Homo sapiens: one gene and its partner. The protein of the gene in region 2 purifies or fractionates together with the protein of the main gene of each other region. This does not show direct contact. Each region holds a gene or a part of one and is shown on either strand. Other genes may lie near its edges.

Region 1 (8,535 bases), on a different chromosome or scaffold from region 2:
TCTCAGAATAGTTCTAATTTTGATTGATCACTACTCAAATGTTTACATTATTATGGCTATGTAATCACTGCTCACAGGTGAACATGTAGCATATTATCTAGCTTTCCTTTCCTGCAATTGTTTGTTTTCCCTAGTTTATAATTGTCTTTTTCCCCCCTTTGCTTAATTTTCTATGTACCTGTGGTTAATTCTCCCTGGACTTTGCTGGTTCTCCAGAGTTCCTGAAGATCTCCTTTCAGTTTGCTTAGTCTCCTTCAGACTGCACTGGTTTTCCTGCTCTCATCATGGATTTCCCCTCACCATCATGTTGGGGCTTCCTTTGCTTCTGTCCTGTTGGATCCATTGTTTCTTATACCCCTATCTCCTTTCCTGCTTTGCTCCCTCATTTTAGGGGAACATGCCCTTCAGCAATTTCCTGAGAAAAGGATTGTTAATGAGAGATAAATTGTTTTGTGACTTTGAATATCTGAAAGTGCCATTGTTCTACCCTAAAACATATTCAACCATTTAACTGGTATATAATTGTTGGAGGTAATTTTCTCTCAGAATTTTGAAGGCATTGTTCCATTGCCTTGTAGTTATTGTTGAAGTCTAAAGCCATTTTTATTCCTCATTCTTAGTACATGACCTGGTTTTTCTCTGTGGAAACTTTCTGAATGTCATCTCTGTTGTACTGAAATGTTATAATCATGGTAGGCCTTGGTAGGAATCAGTTTTCATTAATTCTGCCAGTTATTAGATGAGCTTTTTTAATGGGAAACTTATGTCCTACATTTCTGAAGGATTTTCATGAATCGTTCTATGGTGATATCCTTCGTTTTCTGTATTCTGTCTTTCTGGAATTGTTCATGTTGTATGTCCTGCACTGATTTTCCTATTCTCTTTTAAAATCTTATTGTTTATAGATAAAAGTTTCTCGTATCTTTCTACAGATATGAATGATATATTTCTGTTTTTAGATTTTGAAGTTTTCTCTTCCCCCTATATGGTATGCTTCCTTCACGTTCCTTTTATTGCTTCATTTTGATCTGCATCTTTGCTGTTAGTGATTTTCCTCAAGTATCTGATGTCCTTGGGCCCTCATTTAAGAGTGAAGGTACAAGAAACAGATCAGAAGGTCTGAATTTGTGGGTGGGGCATATTGGGTTTGGATTTCACAATATCTGGTGTGGTTGGCCCATTTGATTAGGGAGTCTCAATGTCAGTATCTTTAGCCAATGAATTTTTGATGACTTTCCATTTATGTAATGAATTTAACAAGCACTTAACAATGTGCTAGGCACTGTTCCTGCTGACATGTAGCCTTCATGGAGTTGACATTTTAGTATTTTTAAGTCTTTTCCCTTGGGCTCAGTAGATTTTACTGAAAAGCTCCCCAGTCACCATCATTTTGGGGTCTCAGTAGAAGATACCTTGGAGTCTCAGTATTTAATATTTCATTGAGTCTGTGTATCCATTTTCATAATCTCCTGTCTTCCTTTGATACTCTGTACTTTTTCCTCCAAGTGTGCTTGGAATCTCCTGGTCTGGAGACTCTTTAGTTTGTCCTCTCCAAAGAATAAACCTGTCTTCTTTGTCATGAGGTGGGAGAGGGGAGGTGAGAGAGGGGAGGTGGGAGAGGGGAGCGGATCTAGAGTTTCTGAATGCTTTTAGGGCAGTTTGTTTGTTTTTAGCCCTACCATTCATGAGACACACTGGGTGTAAATCACATTGTTTCTATGCTGTTCTCACTCCTGATTTAGGATCTGTTTTCTCTACTGTTTTAACAAAATGTTTATATTCCTCCACCAGCTTTCCAGCTTCCAAACTTTTGTTACTGTTTCCTCTCCCTTTCTGTGTGTCGTTGGGAGCTTATGCCTTTAAAAAAAAATCCTTTTAGTGTGATTTTATTAGTAGTAGGGAATTAGCAGAAAACAAAAGTATATATTTTAGTCCGCCTCATTTCATGTGTTTTGCCCTTGGCTGTATCTGACTAGTTCCAGAGATCTTCCATCCTCCACTCTTGGGTTTTATGTTATCTATATCAATGCTAGTGGAAAAAAAGTAACTCCGGTTATTTAGAATGCCTTATTTACATCGTATTCATGGATGGATCGGGGCGGGTTGGCAGCCTGTATAAGCTGAGAAGTTAAAACATTTCAAACTTGATGATAAAGCCATCCTGAAGATATAGCCAGACAGAACCCTAAAGCTGTCCAGCTTCTCAATCTTGACTATCCCATAAATGAGCATTCTCCCTCAGTCTGGTGAAGAGGTAAACTATCCCTGAGCTTTTTGTGTAACACATTACATCCCTAGAGCTAAAAATGACCCCATCAGTAGTGTTTGTCTTGAAGGAGAAGCTAATTTAATAATTACAATAGTTGATTTAAAACAGTGGTCCCCAACCTTTTTGGCACCAGGGACCAGTTTCGTGGCAGATAGACAATTTTTCCACAGATGGGAAGGGGGTACATTTCAGGATGAAACTGTTCCACCTCAGATCGTCAGGCATTAAGAGTCTCATAAAGAGCACAGAACCTAGATCCATCACATGTACAGTTCACAATAGGGTTCATGCTCCTATGAGAATCTAATGCCGTTACAGGCGGAGTTTAGGCGGTAATGCTCACTCACCCACCCACCCACTGCTCACCCTCTGCTGTGCGGCCTGATTCCTAACAGGCCACAGACTGGTTGTTTGGGAGACCCCTGGTTTAAAAGCTTGTTCTTAATGCCTTAATGGAGCATGGGAAGGAAATTTTAGACTTCCTGTCTTTTGGATACTTGCTGAGGAACTGGACTTGAGACCAACAATAAAGGAATAGGTAATGACACCTAATTGGTGACTGGACCTGAATACACAATGTTTGCTATGACCTACAGATGACAGAAAGTTGGAAGGTTTTATATTTGACTCCCGTTTCTTTGGCCATTTACTGCTAATAGTCTCATCTGCAAAATGAGGGGTTGGACTAGATGATCTCTACTTCCCAGCCTAGTTGAGTAGATTACCAACAGCTAAGTTTACACTGCTGTGCCTAGTTTTCTTCTTTTGAAATGATTCTTGTTTAGTCAACTTTGCAAAATTCCTTTCTTTTTGACATATCTGTTTATATTTACATTTCCAGTTTTACTGGTTACTTGAGTTTAACATTAGCCAGCTTCCATTATCCTAATAAACAGTAAGAATTCTGTCACTGAATATTTTATCTGCCAGGTTTGTTCTTACCACTTCCTTTAATGACTCCTTAATTATTCCATCTTCTTATTAAATAGTGGGGTTTCTAGTTTGAGAGGGAAATGATTTGCTCTGTGAATGTGTGTACACTGTATATGTGTGTGTATATATATATATATAAAACATACATACATTTTTGTATGCATAAATATATATAATTTTTAAAAATCTGTTTAGGGCTTCAAGCAGCAAGCTCTTACAGTATCCACAGATCCTGAGCATCGTTTTGAGCTTGCTCTTCAGCTTGGAGAGTTAAAAATTGCATACCAGTTAGCAGTGGAAGCAGAGGTATGTACTAATTCATGATTTTTCATAACTGATGGAAAAGTCAGTAGGTACTTCTATGTGTTTGGTGTAATGTTTTGTTATTAAAGTTTTCCCAAATGCAAATTAGTGGCTCATTTTGTTGAAGTTATTGTCTCTCTCTTATCTTTTTAAAAGATGTATTATGTTAAACTTTGCATAAGTTAAATTGATTACATTGGAGATATTCTTAGCACTCTAATTTGTTTTAAGAAAAATTGTTTTCATATCTTATGTGAGCTCTATTTTGCAAGATAAGAAAAGATGTAAAATAGTATGTAAACTAGTCTGGAAAGCCTAAGAGTACAGACATAGCAGTTATTTGCCAATGTCTGAAACTAACTAAAAATATGTTGGTTTTGAAAGACAGCCCAACCCCCTCATCTTTTGGTGTTGAATAGAGCAGGCAGTCAGAGAAGGACAGTGCTGCCTTGGTGGCACTCACCTTCAGCAGCAGATGCTCTTAGCACATCTGGTCTAAATGTTTGAGCTAAATGAGCTGTTCAGGGAGGCTCAAGTGGGAGAAATGTTAATACCATTTTTGTAATGATATTTTTATAGATCTTTGTATATTGAGGCTCCCAATTGTTTCAGACTGGCATTTACTGGTAAATTAATTTCAGATGTGCAAAATAAATTTTAGCTACGTTAAGATCATCTAAACATGCAGCATTTTGAGTTCTGAAAAGCTACAAGTGAGACATAATATTATTGTGAAATATTTAAAGACGTAGTTTTGTATGCTTTCAAAAAAGTGATATTAAATCACTTGTTAAAATAATTGCAGTCTAATTGCCTTAAAACTCCAGTGAGATGGTTTTACTTTCCCTGTGTAATTATAAGATAAAAGTATAATGGGTTGACGATAATTATTTGCACATCATTAAAATTGATTTGTGTTTAAATTCATTTTGTATACATTAATAATTTCCATTTCCTCACTGTACATTTTGCAATGCCATTCTTATTTTGATAGAGCCAACTTAACAAACACAGCTCTTTTTATAAACATTGTCTGCACAGTTAACAGAATAATGTTGGAAATGTAAATGCTTATTTCTAAAGATATTTTAACTTGGAAACTCTTTTCTTACAGTCAGAACAGAAGTGGAAACAACTTGCTGAACTTGCCATTAGTAAATGTCAGTTTGGCCTAGCCCAGGAGTGCCTGCATCATGCACAGGATTATGGGGGCCTGCTGCTTTTGGCCACTGCCTCTGGAAATGCTAATATGGTGAACAAGCTAGCAGAGGGTGCGGAGAGAGATGGCAAAAATAATGTGGCATTCATGAGCTACTTTTTACAGGGCAAGTGAGTATTAATTTAAAAGATTAATTAATTCTACACTGAGGATGGTTTTTGGAGAGGGAAGTGAAGAATGAACCCTGGAGAGAACTGATGAATGGCCAAATGGTGTTGAATAGACGGGGCAGTCAGAACAGGACAGTGCTGCCTTGGTGGCACTCACCTTCAGCAAGGGATGCCCTTAGCACATCTATCTAAATGTTTGAGCTAAATGAGCTGTTCAGGGAGGCTCAAGTGGGAGAAATGTTAAACACCTTCTTCAACAGCCCTGCCAGTTAATGGTGGAAGCATTTTATTTTATGATTGCAGGAGGCTATTGAGCTGCTCTAGTAGGTACCTGAAGGGCAGGTGATTTTACCCAAATTGGATAACTTTGATCCATTTATGGCAAGAACAAAAGGGGATAAGTATGCCACTTACTTGTAGATTTGAGCCCACTATAAAGCATAAAGATGTCTCATATTTTTAAGTCTAACCGAGTTAGCATAAACCAAATCATTTGGACATTAGTTGGCAGTATTATGAAATAAAACACAAAAGTATTCTTTCCTTTTTTTTTTTTTTTTTTTGAGATGGAATCTCACTCTGTTGCCCAGGCTGGAGTGCAGTGGCATGATCTCGGCTAATTGCAGCCTCTGTCTCCCTCGTTCAAGCCCTTCTCCTGCCTTAGCCTCCCAAGTAGCTGGGATTACAGGCATGCGCCACCACACCCGGCTTGTGTTTTTAATAGAGATGGGGTCTCACCATGTTGGCCAGGCTGGTCTCAAACTCCTGACCTCAAATGATCCGCCTGCCTCGTCCTCCCAAAGTGCTGGGATTATAGGTGTGAGCCACCACGCCCAGCCCGAAAGTATTCTTTAACCTTCTCCTACATACTGATTTTTTTTTTTTTTTACAATCCCATACTTCGCCATATAACTTTGAACGTGCACCCCATTGTATGTATGTGAATGTATTTATGAATTTATATACCTGTAAGAATAGACCCTATTCCTTATCCATAATTCAAAAATCCAAAAATATTCTGAAAACAGTTATAACTGTTTTGATGGCAAGACCTGAGCTGAACTGCTTTAGTATTTTTAGTTGCTTTTATACCAACTTGGTACATTTTTATTGCATTTAACATTCCTATGTAAGTTATTGCAGTATTAATGTTTGTGGCTTTTTCATGCTGAGGATGTAAGGTAATACATAGTATACATACTGTATCACCTTTCGAAAATCCAAAAAATCCTGAATTCTGAAACATATTGTCCACATCATAAAACTTGCACAGAAAAAAAATGAAATTAAAATAGAAGAAAAAATAAGACACCATGGTATTCTGCTGGGCACCACTGGCTTGTCTGGCCCTTCCCATGTTGGAGACACTGCCCTAGATATTTGTCTTGTGGAACTGAATTTCTGCTGGCATATATCCTTATGCCTTTAAAATTTGCTAATCTAACCTGCCTTAACTCCTCTTGAAAAGCCCCTTTAGGTTCTTAGGAATTATAATAATTAAGTTAAGTAGATTCAAAGTAGTCAGGAAAGCTGTCTTATCCCTCATACCCTTGCAGTGTGTTGATTAACAACCATTAAAAGACAAGTGACAGAAATGAGATATATGTGTGAAGATTGGGGAGATTTTTGGCTTTGTAACACTAAATTTACTTTGTGTTAAGTACCCATTATTATAGTGTTTATTCTTGGTAACAGTACCTCTCCTTTTTAATGTTTAGGGTTGATGCCTGCCTAGAGCTCTTAATTAGAACTGGACGGCTGCCAGAAGCTGCCTTCTTGGCCCGAACTTACTTACCCAGTCAGGTTTCAAGGTACAGACTTTTAATTTTAGGAAGAAATGTTTCCAATAAAAAGAGAGCACATTTACTTAGTCTCTCTTTGGTTCCATGATGTCTATAATAGGGTAGTGAAACTCTGGAGAGAGAATCTCTCAAAAGTCAATCAGAAAGCAGCAGAATCCCTTGCTGACCCAACAGAGTATGAAAACCTGTTCCCTGGATTAAAAGAAGCCTTTGTTGTTGAAGAATGGGTGAAGGAAACACATGCTGATCTGTGGCCAGCCAAACAATACCCACTTGTCACGGTGAGTGGCCAGGATGTCAAGCTTCATTTATTGTAACTACAGGGTGGAAGTACATTCAGGACTTCAGATTTTGAACTGCTGTCTTCTTTTAAAATTAAGAGCTGATATCTGGGATTTAGGCCAAGTTCATAGGTAAATTATGATTTCAGAATATCTCATTTCATCATTGCTTTATTCTCTGATAGCCAAATGAAGAGAGAAATGTCATGGAAGAGGGAAAAGACTTTCAGCCCTCAAGATCTACAGCTCAACAGGTCAGTAGAGCACTTCATGTGATAAATTTGGCTGAGATGGTTCACTTTTTTTTTTTTTCTTTTGAGACAGAGTTTCGCTCCATTGCCCTGGCTGGAGTGCAGTGGCGCGATCTAGGCTCACTGCAAGCTCTGTCTCCCGGGTTCACGCCATTCTCCTGCCTCAGCCTCCCGAGTAGCTGGGGTAATTACAGGCGCCCATCACCGGTCCGGCTAATTTTTTTGTATTTTTATTAGAGACAGGGTTTCACTGCATTAGCCAGGATGGTCTCGATCTCCTGACCTCATGATCCACCTGCTTCGGCCTCCCAAAGTGCTGGGATTACAGGCGTGAGCCACTGTGCCTGGCTGAGATGGTTCACTTTTAAACATCATCTCCCACTTCCTAATTCTGATCATCCTTTTCTTGGGGGAAAACTTTAAATTCCCGAGTAAATTCCCTTGTCTTCATATATATCTTCACTTGTGGTTTCAGGAACTTGATGGGAAACCTGCTTCTCCTACTCCGGTTATTGTGGCCTCCCACACAGCCAACAAAGAAGAAAAGGTAGGTCAGACATCATACTCAAACCTCCCTCTACCCCATCTTCCTCCCCATCAATATCTGGAGGATACGTAGGCCTCTGTGGTTTAAGTGACATCAGTTTCAGAGCAGGGGCTTTGAAATGGGAAGATGCTCTTTTTGACTATTAAGAAAATCTTAGTTCTCACTTTGAATCATGAACCCACGGATAACTTTCCTTTAACAGTACTGTAAAACTTAATTACCCTCTTCCTTTTGTCTGCAGAGTTTACTCGAACTAGAAGTAGATTTGGATAATTTGGAATTAGAAGATATTGACACAACAGATATCAATCTGGATGAAGATATTTTGGATGATTGACTGTAATGCTTTCCATTTACCTGACTAAACAGATCATTATTATATATAGGTATTGATTGCTACCCTGACCACAGTGCTTTGGACTATGAGAAACTTCTTAGATTTTTATATGTAAATGCTGTGGACCACTGGGAGCACAATGCCCACATCATCTTAAGAAGAGTTTATGTGCAGCATTTAAATCACTGTGTTTTCCTTGTTAACTAAAACAGACATGGGCTTTGATTTTTTTCATACTATTAGACCATATCTCATAAAACCTTTTGAATTAATGAAGGTACTTGTTTCCTTTCTCAATAATGAAAATAGGCTTCTAGTTTTAGAAGGCTGAGCCGAAACTACACCTTGCCTAGGGATCAGCCCCACTGTCTTTTCTTTGTATAACTAAATCTGCATTTTCAAATGTTGTCAATCACATTTTTCTTAGAGCTGAATATCCAGGCTGTAATTCTCTAAACCCTTTTTCTTGACCTCATTGCATCA
Region 2 (9,516 bases):
TAACAACTATCTCCTTGTTCTCTCTCTAGGAGACAGACTCTGAAAAGCCAGAACTAGATCTGCTTGTTATAGTACCAACAAAGGAAGAGGTAAAAAGGCAAATGGTACCTGTGATGATGGAGCTCAATGAATTCAAGACTAAAGCTTAGAATACAGTGGGTCTTGGGGGATGATGTCAAAATAGGAGAAGGAAAGAGAGTTGAAAACTACAGACGGCAACCAAACAGGACCTCTCTGCAACTTCAGCATCTGCCTGCCCTCACAGGCCCTTACCTCACTGTCTTCCTCTTCTTCCTCCGCCTCATCTGACTCATCCTCACTGTCCTCAAAGAACTTGGACTTAGCAACTCGAGGCAGCTTGTCAGAGGCTGAAGAGCAGGAAGGCCCAGCCTCACCAGTGGGAATGCCAGGCTCACCAACTTGGCCTGCCTCAGTCCCACGTTCCGAGTTGGAGGAAAAGCCTGTGTAGGCCTTGGCTGTGGGGCCATTTTCTTGTGAAGGAGTTTCCCTAGTTGAGTCCTCAGGTCCTGCCTCCCCATTGAGGCCCTGGGACCCTGGTTCCTCGCCTGTCCCACCTCCAGATTTGCTGTGGGGAGGGCCCTTGTGACAGTTCTGCCCGTAGCGTGTCAGCAGCTCTTCAATAGTCATGGTAGCCTCTTCATGCAGCAGTGCAGCCTCCTCATTGTCCACTGCAGGGAAGAGGCTAAATCAGAGCCCCCATGCCAGACTCCTCATGGGATCCGTCCCTCTCACTACCTCAACAGCCCTTGCAGCCTCTAACTTCCCCACAACCTCCCACTCCCAAGGTTCCTCTCGCTCAAGTCTCAGAAGAACATGCCCTAGCTCCTCCTCCTCCACAGACTTCTTTTGGTTTTTGTGTTTCATCCCCTTCTTAATCAAAACAACACTAGTTACTATACTTCCCCTCTGACGTCTCATTTTTTATTGTTAAGTTGTAAAAACCCTATTCTGGCTGAGGATCCAGGAAGCCCACAATGCTACTGTGAATTAGGATTTAGGCTTAATGATTGGCTATTGGGGCTAATAACTGCTCCAGTCTTGAGGGGAAAAAAAAGCACATAAATACTAGCAGGAACCAGGAAGACCCCATCACAATGACAAAAGATAATGTATATACAATGCTTACAGCTCAGATGCCACTCAACGAAGATAATTCTCTCCCTCCTTTTCATAACCACATACAATGCAGGAGAACATCATAGGTTTCTTTAACATAAGGACTCCCCAGGTCCCTAGAAAGCCATCCTATCTTAGAATTGATAAGTAATATTAAAGAATATTTCTTAAAATGCTGATTTCCCCTCAAACAAGGGATGCCACACTCACCATCATCTTCATCAGCTACTTTTTCTTTTTCATCTTCATCCTCAGTGGGTCGCCCTGCAATCTGTGCCAGCTCTTTAATGACTTCTTCAGTGGTCAATTTGGCGTCAATAGCCAAGAAGGCATCTTCTAAAGCCTGAATATAAGCAAAATAGTCTAAGACTAGTACAAAATGAACTCCCTATATACAATCCTGAGCACAAGGATGGAATACAAATTAAGAGTGTGAGCCACCACACTAAGAGACACTCACAGATAAAAACAGCTCAGAGGCCTAGGAATAATAAGGCAAGTCTAAAAGGCGGCCAATAAGCTCGTTTTAGGAACAGAATTCTTCAAGAGTAAATAAGCAGCAGCAGCTAGAGGACAAAAAGAAAGGAAAAGCCCAAGGGCTAGAGAACAAGGGAAAAGCCTACACAAGTGAGGAATGGGCGGTGTAAGCAGACAGACCTTCTGTAGCTTGCCTTCCTTGTAGGCCTTCTGATCTTTGATGATATCAGGAAGATATTTGGCACAGTACAAGGCAACTTCCTCCCCTAGAAGGAAAGGAAGGAAGGTCACCTGGAGCACTGCTCCCCACACATAGAAAGTGATACAATATTTATATGCCATACTGGAGTGAACCCCAAGGGTTGAGGGGATAAATATCTTAGCACCCCTGAACCCTATTTGAAGGACACTGTTTGGGGAAGTTCTGATCCAAAAAAATGGATTTCACCATCAATTCTCTCGGGTATAAATATCTCGTCTTTTCTCACCTGTATACTTAGTTCTCCAGTGAAAAAAAGATAAAGAATCAGCTCAACTGGGTACACTTTTTTGTTTTTTAAGACAAGAGTCTTGCTCTGTTGCCCAGGCTGGAGTGCAGTGGCATGGTCTTGGCTCACTGCAACCTCCACCTCCCAGGTTCAAGCGATTCTCCTGCCTCAGCCTTCCGAGCAGCTGGGACCACAGGCGCCCACCACTACGCCCAGCTAATTTTTGTATTTTTAGTAGAGATGGGGTTTCACCATATTGGTCAGGCTGGTCTCGAACTCCTGACCTCGTGATCCACTGTGCCGGGATTACAGGTGTGACCTACCGCGTGCCCAGCCTAAAAATTTTAAAAAATAAAAATAAAAAAAGATAGAGGCTCTTTGGATTAAAACAAGTCCTGGTGAGATTATAAACCAATACAGTACCTACTGGGAAAAAAGAATGACAGAATACAGAAAAACAGCACCACGCAGGAAATGATAATGAGGGCCAGACCCTGGAAAGTAAATGAACAAAGGGACCTGTTCTTGCCCTGGAACGTCTGGAATTGGGGTCCTAGAATGTTACCAATATGATCTGTTAAAGTTACCTCCATGTCCATCGTAGACAGAAAACATGGCTGTCTCACTGTCCAGCTCAGGAATACAGTTGTGAGCATCCTAGGAAAAGAAGAGCATAATCGGCATGTCTCAAGGTCGAAGAATATTCCTCAGGTCATAGGGATCAATGTCACCCCTTACTAACCTTTCCCTGGCTGGCCTATATGGCCTAGAAATAAGAAAGGAAGAAGGAATGATAAAATAAATACAGAGGAAGAAAAGAGGAGGGAGGCAAAGGAGGAAAGGGGAAGGAGAAAAGGAAGAAAGAATCAGGTTACTACCTCTATAATAACCTCAACCTAGGAGATATCTCAGTCCAGATGGCAGAATATTTGGCTACTGGAAATAAACCTGACCCTTTTGGATCTGTGGAAGCTACGGGAAAACCAGAATAAAGGATTTTTTCTTCTTTTTTTTTTTGAGACAGAGTCTCGCCCTGTCACCCAAGCTGGAGTGCAGTGGCGCGATCTTGGCTCACTGCAACCTCCGCCTCGTGGGTTCAAGCGATTCTCCTGCCTCCGCCTGCTGAATAGCTGAGATTACAGGCATGTGCCACCATGCCCGGCTAACTTTTGTATTTTTAGTAGAGATGGGGTTTCACCATGTTGGTCAGGCTGGTCTCGAACTCCTGACCTTGTGATCTGCCTGCCTCGGCCTCCCAAAGTGTTGGCCAGGCTGTACACAGCTTTATTTATTTATTTATTTATTATTATTTTTTGAGACGGAGTCTCGCTCTGTCGCCCAGCCTGGAGGGCAGTGGTGCGATCTCTGCTCACTGCAAGCTTCGCCTCCCAGGTTCACGCCATTCTCCTGCCTCAGCCTCCCAAGTAGCTGGGACTACAGGCACCCACCACCACACCCGGCTAATTTTTTGTATTTTTAGTAGAGACGGGGTTTCACCTTGTTAGCCAGAATGGTCTCGATCTCCTGATCTCGGGATCCACCCGCCTCAGTCTCCCAAAGTGCTGGGATTACATAAGTGAGCCACCGCGCCCGGCCTACAGCATTATTTATAATAAAAAACAGTTGAGGCCAGGCGTGGTGGCTCACACCTGTAATCCCAGCACTTTGGGAGGCTAAGGCCGGCAGATCATGAAGTCAAGAGATCAATACCATCCTGGCCAACATGGTGAAACCCCGTCTCTACTAAAAATACAAAAATTAGCCAGGCGTGGTGGTGTGCGCCCGTAGTCCCAGCTACTCGGAAGGGTGAGGCAGGAGAATCACTTGAACCCCGGAGGTGGAAGTTGCAGTGAGCCAAGATCACACCACTGCGCTCCAGCCTGGGTGACAGAGTCAGACTCCGTCTCTAAATAAATAAATAAATAAAATAAAAAACAGTTGTAACCATCTAAATTTCCAGGAATAGATTACAAATGGTACGTAACTCCAGTGGAAATGTAGCTGTTAAAAGCAAATATATGTTAATTTGGAAATGAGTTCACAATATCTTAAGTGGTTAAAAGCAAAAAGTTAAAAAAGTATCTACATGTGAGGACGGCCACAGTGGCTCACTCCTGTAATCCCAGCACTTTGGGAGGCCCAGGCAGGCGGATCATGAGGTCAGGAGATCGAGACCATCCTGGCTAACATGGTGAAACCCCGTCTCTACTAAAAATACAAAAAATTAGCTGGAGGTGATGGTGGGCGCCTGTAGTCCCAGCTACTTGGGAGGCTGAGGCAGGAGAATGGCGTGAACCCAGGAGGCAGAGCCTGCAGTGAGCCGAGATTGCGCCACTGCACTCCAGCCAGGGCGACAGAGCAAGACTCCGTCTCAAAAAAAAAAAAAAAAAATTATCTACATGTATATGTGAGTCTGGAAGATCACATAGCAAACAACCACAGAGGGTGAGATTTGGGTAATAATTTCTACTTTTCGACATTCATTTTTAAATTTTTGTACAATAAACCACATTGTTCCATTCTGAATAAGGACAACAAACACACCTAAGAACTGGCCTCAAGTTGCCATTCTACCATATACTGCATGATCTCTGGTCAGCTACCTTATGGTGTGCCTCAATTTTATCCTCTGTGATGTGGAATTACAATATCCACCACATCCACATCATCACAGAACTGTTGTAATGATGCAAAACACATAAAAGCCCTTTGTAAACTGGAATTTGCTACATAAAAATATATATATATATACACACACACATACACATATATGTATATTCTGCTCTGAAATTTAGCACCCATTTCACATTTTTCTTTTTTGTTCTTTTTCTCAAAGAGGACCACCCACAATAAAGATTCGTCTTACACCTTGAGGTCTCAGTCCTGAGAACTATCGCACAATTACCCTCTCCTTCACTTCTTGGTGAGGCTTGGGATCTATATTATGATTTGGAACTGTTTCACCTTCCCTAAACACTTTAATTTGCCCCCTTTACATGTCTGCTCATAACCTTTACCCACACCTTTGCTTCTCTCTATCCCTTACTGAGACAGAGCCAAGTATTTCAACATGGTCTCTTAGAAATCTAGAAAAACTCACCCAACCTTGTATAACCCCACCAACTGATTTATGCCTGAATCAGAACTACTAAGTTTGCTAGTCATAAAATGTTATGAGATTGGCTAGGTGCGATGGCTCACACCTGTAATCCCAGCGCTCTGGGAAGGTAGGCAGGAGGACTGATTGAGATCAGGAGTTGGAGACCAGCCTAGGCAACATAGCAAGACCCCGCCTCTACAAAAAAATTTTAAAGTTAGCCAGGCATAGCAGCATGCACCTGCAGTCAGTCCTAACTACTCGGAACACTGAGGCAAGAGGACCACCTGAGCCCAGGAGGTGGAGGCTGCAGAAAGCTATGATGCACCACTGCACTCCAGCCTGGGTGACAGAGGGAGACCCCATCTCTAAAACAAAACAAAGTTATAGGATCACATTGACTGTGGTAATTACTTCATTTCAGCATCTTGTTTTCTTTTTTTTTTGAGATGGAGTCTCCCAGGCTGGAGTAGAGTGGCGCGATCTAGGCTCACCATATCCTCCACTTTCCAGGTTCAAGCAATTCTCCTGCCTCAGTCTCCTGAGTGGCTGAAATTACAGTGGGCACCTGCCACCACGCCCAGCCAATTTTTGTATTTTCAGTAGAGACGGGGCTTCACCATGTTGCCCAGGCTCTTCTCAAACTCCTGAGCTCAAGTGATCTGCCCAGCTCGGCCTCCCAAAACGCTGGGATTACAGGCGTGAGCCATTGCAACTGGCCAAACACAGAAATTATCCTCTCTTCCTAGATTAACATTTTTTCTTAAACTCCTGATCTCAAATCCTTCTCCTTCAAGGTCTTACTACACAGAGAATGTAATAACCTTAACAGCAATCCAAATAGCCGTTTTGGCAATGGCTCATGCATGTAATCTCAACATTTTGGGAGGTCAAGGCAGGAGGACTGCTTGAGGCCAGGAGTTCAAGCCTGGGCAACATAGTGAGACCTCATCTCAACAACAACAACAACATCCGTAAACAGCCATTCTGCAGACTTCATTTCCCCTAGCCATTATGTCAGATTAAACAGTACAAACCATGTCAGTTTTTTTTTTATTTTTCAATGTTTATTTTAGAATCACAGAATACATGTGTAAGTTTGTTAGAAAGGTATACTGTGTGATGCTGAGGTTTGGGGTATGACTGAACCCGTTTCCCAGGTGCTGGGTATAGTATCAAATAGGTAGTTTTTCAGCTGTTCCTCTGCCACACAACCCCCACCCCCACCCTGCCGCACCACCACCTCTAGTAGACCCATGTCTATTGTTGCCATCTTTACATCCATGTGTACTTGATGTTCAGCTCCCACTCTCACTGCGTGAGAACACGCAGTATTTGGTTTTCTGTTTCTGTGTTAGTTTGCTTAGGATAATGCCCTCCAGCTACATTCATGTTGTTGCAAAGACATTATTTCATTATTTTTAATGGGTGCATAGTATTCCATGATGGCTATGTACCATATTTTCTTTTCTTTTCTAGTCCGCCACTGATGGGCACATGAGTTGATTCAATGTTTTTGCTATTGTGAATGGTGCCACAATGAACATACAGGTACATATGTTCTTTTGGCAGAATGATTTATTTTCCTTTGGCCGTATATCCAGCCATCAGATTGCTGGGTCTAATGGTAGTTCCACTCTTAGTTCTCTGAGAAATCTCCAAACTGACTGTGCCTACGCTAAATTAATTTACACCTTCACCAACAGTGTACAAGTGTCTGCTTTCCTCTGCAGCCTCACCAACGTTTCTCATTTTTTGACATTTTAACAAAAGCTGTTCTGACTGGTGTGAGATGGTATCTCTTTGTGGTTCTAATTTGCATTTGTCTGATGATTAGAAATGGGCGTTTTTTCATGTTTGTGGGCCACATGTACGTCTTTTGAGAAGTATCTGTTCATGTCCTTTGCCCACTTTTTAAGGGGGTTATTTGCTTTTTGCTTGTTAGGTTCCTTATAGATTTTGGATATTAGACTTTTGTTGGATGTATACTTTGTGAATATTTTCTCCCATTCTATAGGTTGTTTACCCCCTTGATAGTTTCTCTTGCTGCATGTCACTTTTCTTGAAAGATCTCTTGGATTCTGTGTAGTTCTATACCTCTGACTGCCTGTTTCTACAGGATGTTCTTTTTTTCTTTCTTTTTTTTTTTTTTGAGACAGAGTCTAGCTCTGTTGCCAGGGTGGAGTGCAGTGGCGCGATCTCGGCTCATCACAACCTCTGCCTCTCGGGTTCAAGCAATTCTCCTGCCTCAGCCTCCTGAGTAGCTGGGATAACAGGCACGCGCCGCCACGCCCAGCTAATTTTTGTATTTTTAGTAGAGACGGGGTTTCACCATGTTGGCCAGGATGGTCTCGATCTCCTGGACCTCGTGATCTGCCCACCTTGGCCTCCCAAAGTGCTGGGATTACGGGTGTGAGCCACTGCACCCGGCCAGGATGTTCTTTCTCTCTATACCTCAAACTTAACACATGTAATCAGGAAATCAGCAGTCTGCAAAAAAAAAAAAATCAAGAGCTTCCCCTACAGGTCTTATTTCTGTAAATGGAATCTTAACTCTCCCAGACAACACTTAATACCAGAGTCATGCTTAACTTCCTGGCTGTCTTCCACCATCCATCACTGAGTCCTGCATGCAGTCCTTCATCATGTTGTTGTTCCTGGATTACTTTGTTTTGTTGGTTTGTTTTGTTTTTTTTTTTTTTTTTTTTTTTTGAGAGAGAGAATGTCTCCCTGTCACCCAGGCTGGAGTACAGTGGCATGATCTCAGCTTACTACAACCTCCGCAGCCCAGGTTCAAGTGATTCTCATGCCTCAGCCTCCCAAGTAGCCGGGATTACAGGTGTGTGCCACCATGACTGGCTAGTTTTTATATTTTTAGTAGACACGGGGTTTCACCATGTTGCCCAGGCTGGTCTCAAACTCCCGACCTCAGGTGATCCTCCCGCCTCAGCCTCCCAAAGTGCTGAGATTTAGGCATGAGCCACTACGCCAGCCCACAGTACATTTTTTTTTTGGGGGGGGGGAGGGTACCAAATTTATTTATTTGAAGGAATGGTACAAATCAAAGAACTTAAGTGGGTGTCTTGGAACAACTTATAGAAAAGGTAAAGGAAACCCCAACATACATGCGCTGCCTTGGTGACAAGGTAAGTCACCCTATGGCTATGGGGAAATTAGCCTGAGGCTTAGCTTTCATTATCACTGTCTCCCAGGGTGTGCTTGTCAAAGAGGTATTCTGCCACGCCAGATTCGGGCGCTCCCATCTCGTGCATGTTGGTCACGTGGTCACCCAATTCTTTGATGGCCTTCACTTGTTCATTCAGGTAATGTGTCTCAATGAAGTCACACAAATGGGGGTCATTTTTGTCAGTGGCCAGTTTGTGCAGTTCCAGTAGTGACTGATTCACATTTTTTTCCAAATGTAATGCAAAATGCACAATTTTTTCCAAATGTAATCCATCGCATTCAGCCCGCTCTCCCATCGCATTCTCCCCGCACAGTCTGGTTTCTTGATATCCTGAAGGAAGATTCGGCCACCTCGTTGGTTCTACAGCTTCATCAATTTCTCAGCATGTTCCCTCTCCTCATGAGATTGGTGAAGAAAGTATTTGGCAAAGTTCTTCAAAGCCACATCATCGCTGTCAAAGTAGTAAGCCACGCACAGGTAAATGGAGGAGGCGTAGAGCTCCAGGTTGATCTGGCGGTTGATGGCGGCCTCTGAGTCTTGGTGGTAGTTCTGGCGCACCTGCGAGGTAGACGCGGTCGTCATGCCGGCGACTAAGGAGAGGCGGCGGCAGCGGCAGTGGTGGCTACGCGGCGCTGGAGCTGCGGCGGGGGCCTTGGGGCAGTCCGAGGGCATGGTGAAGAGGTGACGGAGGGCTGGCTATGGGCGGCCGGCCGGGGTGCAGGACGAGCGCCGGGTTCCGTCCAAGCACTGTTGAAGCAGGAAACCCCGACCACTCTCGGCGAAGAACGTCTCAACTTTTAATTATCATATTTTTTTCTGAGAAAGAGTCTCACTCTGTCGCCAGGCTGGAGTGCAGTGGCGCAATCTTGGCTCCCCGCAACCTCCATCTCCCGGGTTCAAGCAATTCTCCTGCCTCAGCCTCCCGAGTAGCTGGGAGTACAGGTGCGTGCCACCACACCCAGCTAATTTTTTATTTTTATTTATTTATTTTTTTAGAGACAGAGTCTCACTCTGTCGTCCAGGCTGGACTGAAGCGGCGCAATCTCGGCTCACTTCAAGCTCCGCCTTCCGGGTTCACGCCATTCTCCCGTCTCAAAACTCCTGAGTACCTGGGACTACAGGTGCCTGCC

The links.
Region 1: the proteins of PPM1G (region 2) and COPB2 purify together in Homo sapiens (affinity purification with mass spectrometry; 2 studies listed by BioGRID and IntAct, with this or other methods). This does not show direct contact.

The regions. Positions count from the first base shown.
Region 1 is NC_000003.12:139,357,380-139,365,914, reverse strand, and holds the end of COPB2 (coatomer subunit beta'), read left to right. Parts: intron 1-3,397; coding exon 3,398-3,508; intron 3,509-4,619; coding exon 4,620-4,834; intron 4,835-6,552; coding exon 6,553-6,645; intron 6,646-6,736; coding exon 6,737-6,917; intron 6,918-7,102; coding exon 7,103-7,171; intron 7,172-7,643; coding exon 7,644-7,715; intron 7,716-7,956; coding exon 7,957-8,052; 3' UTR 8,053-8,509; downstream 8,510-8,535. UniProt on the Homo sapiens protein: The coatomer is a cytosolic protein complex that binds to dilysine motifs and reversibly associates with Golgi non-clathrin-coated vesicles, which further mediate biosynthetic protein transport from the ER, via the Golgi up to the trans Golgi network.
Region 2 is NC_000002.12:27,384,400-27,393,915, forward strand, and holds part of PPM1G (protein phosphatase 1G), read right to left. Parts: intron 9,178-9,516; exon of another isoform or gene 8,224-9,177; intron 2,760-8,223; coding exon 2,690-2,759; intron 1,881-2,689; coding exon 1,795-1,880; intron 1,481-1,794; coding exon 1,348-1,480; intron 690-1,347; coding exon 274-689; intron 1-273.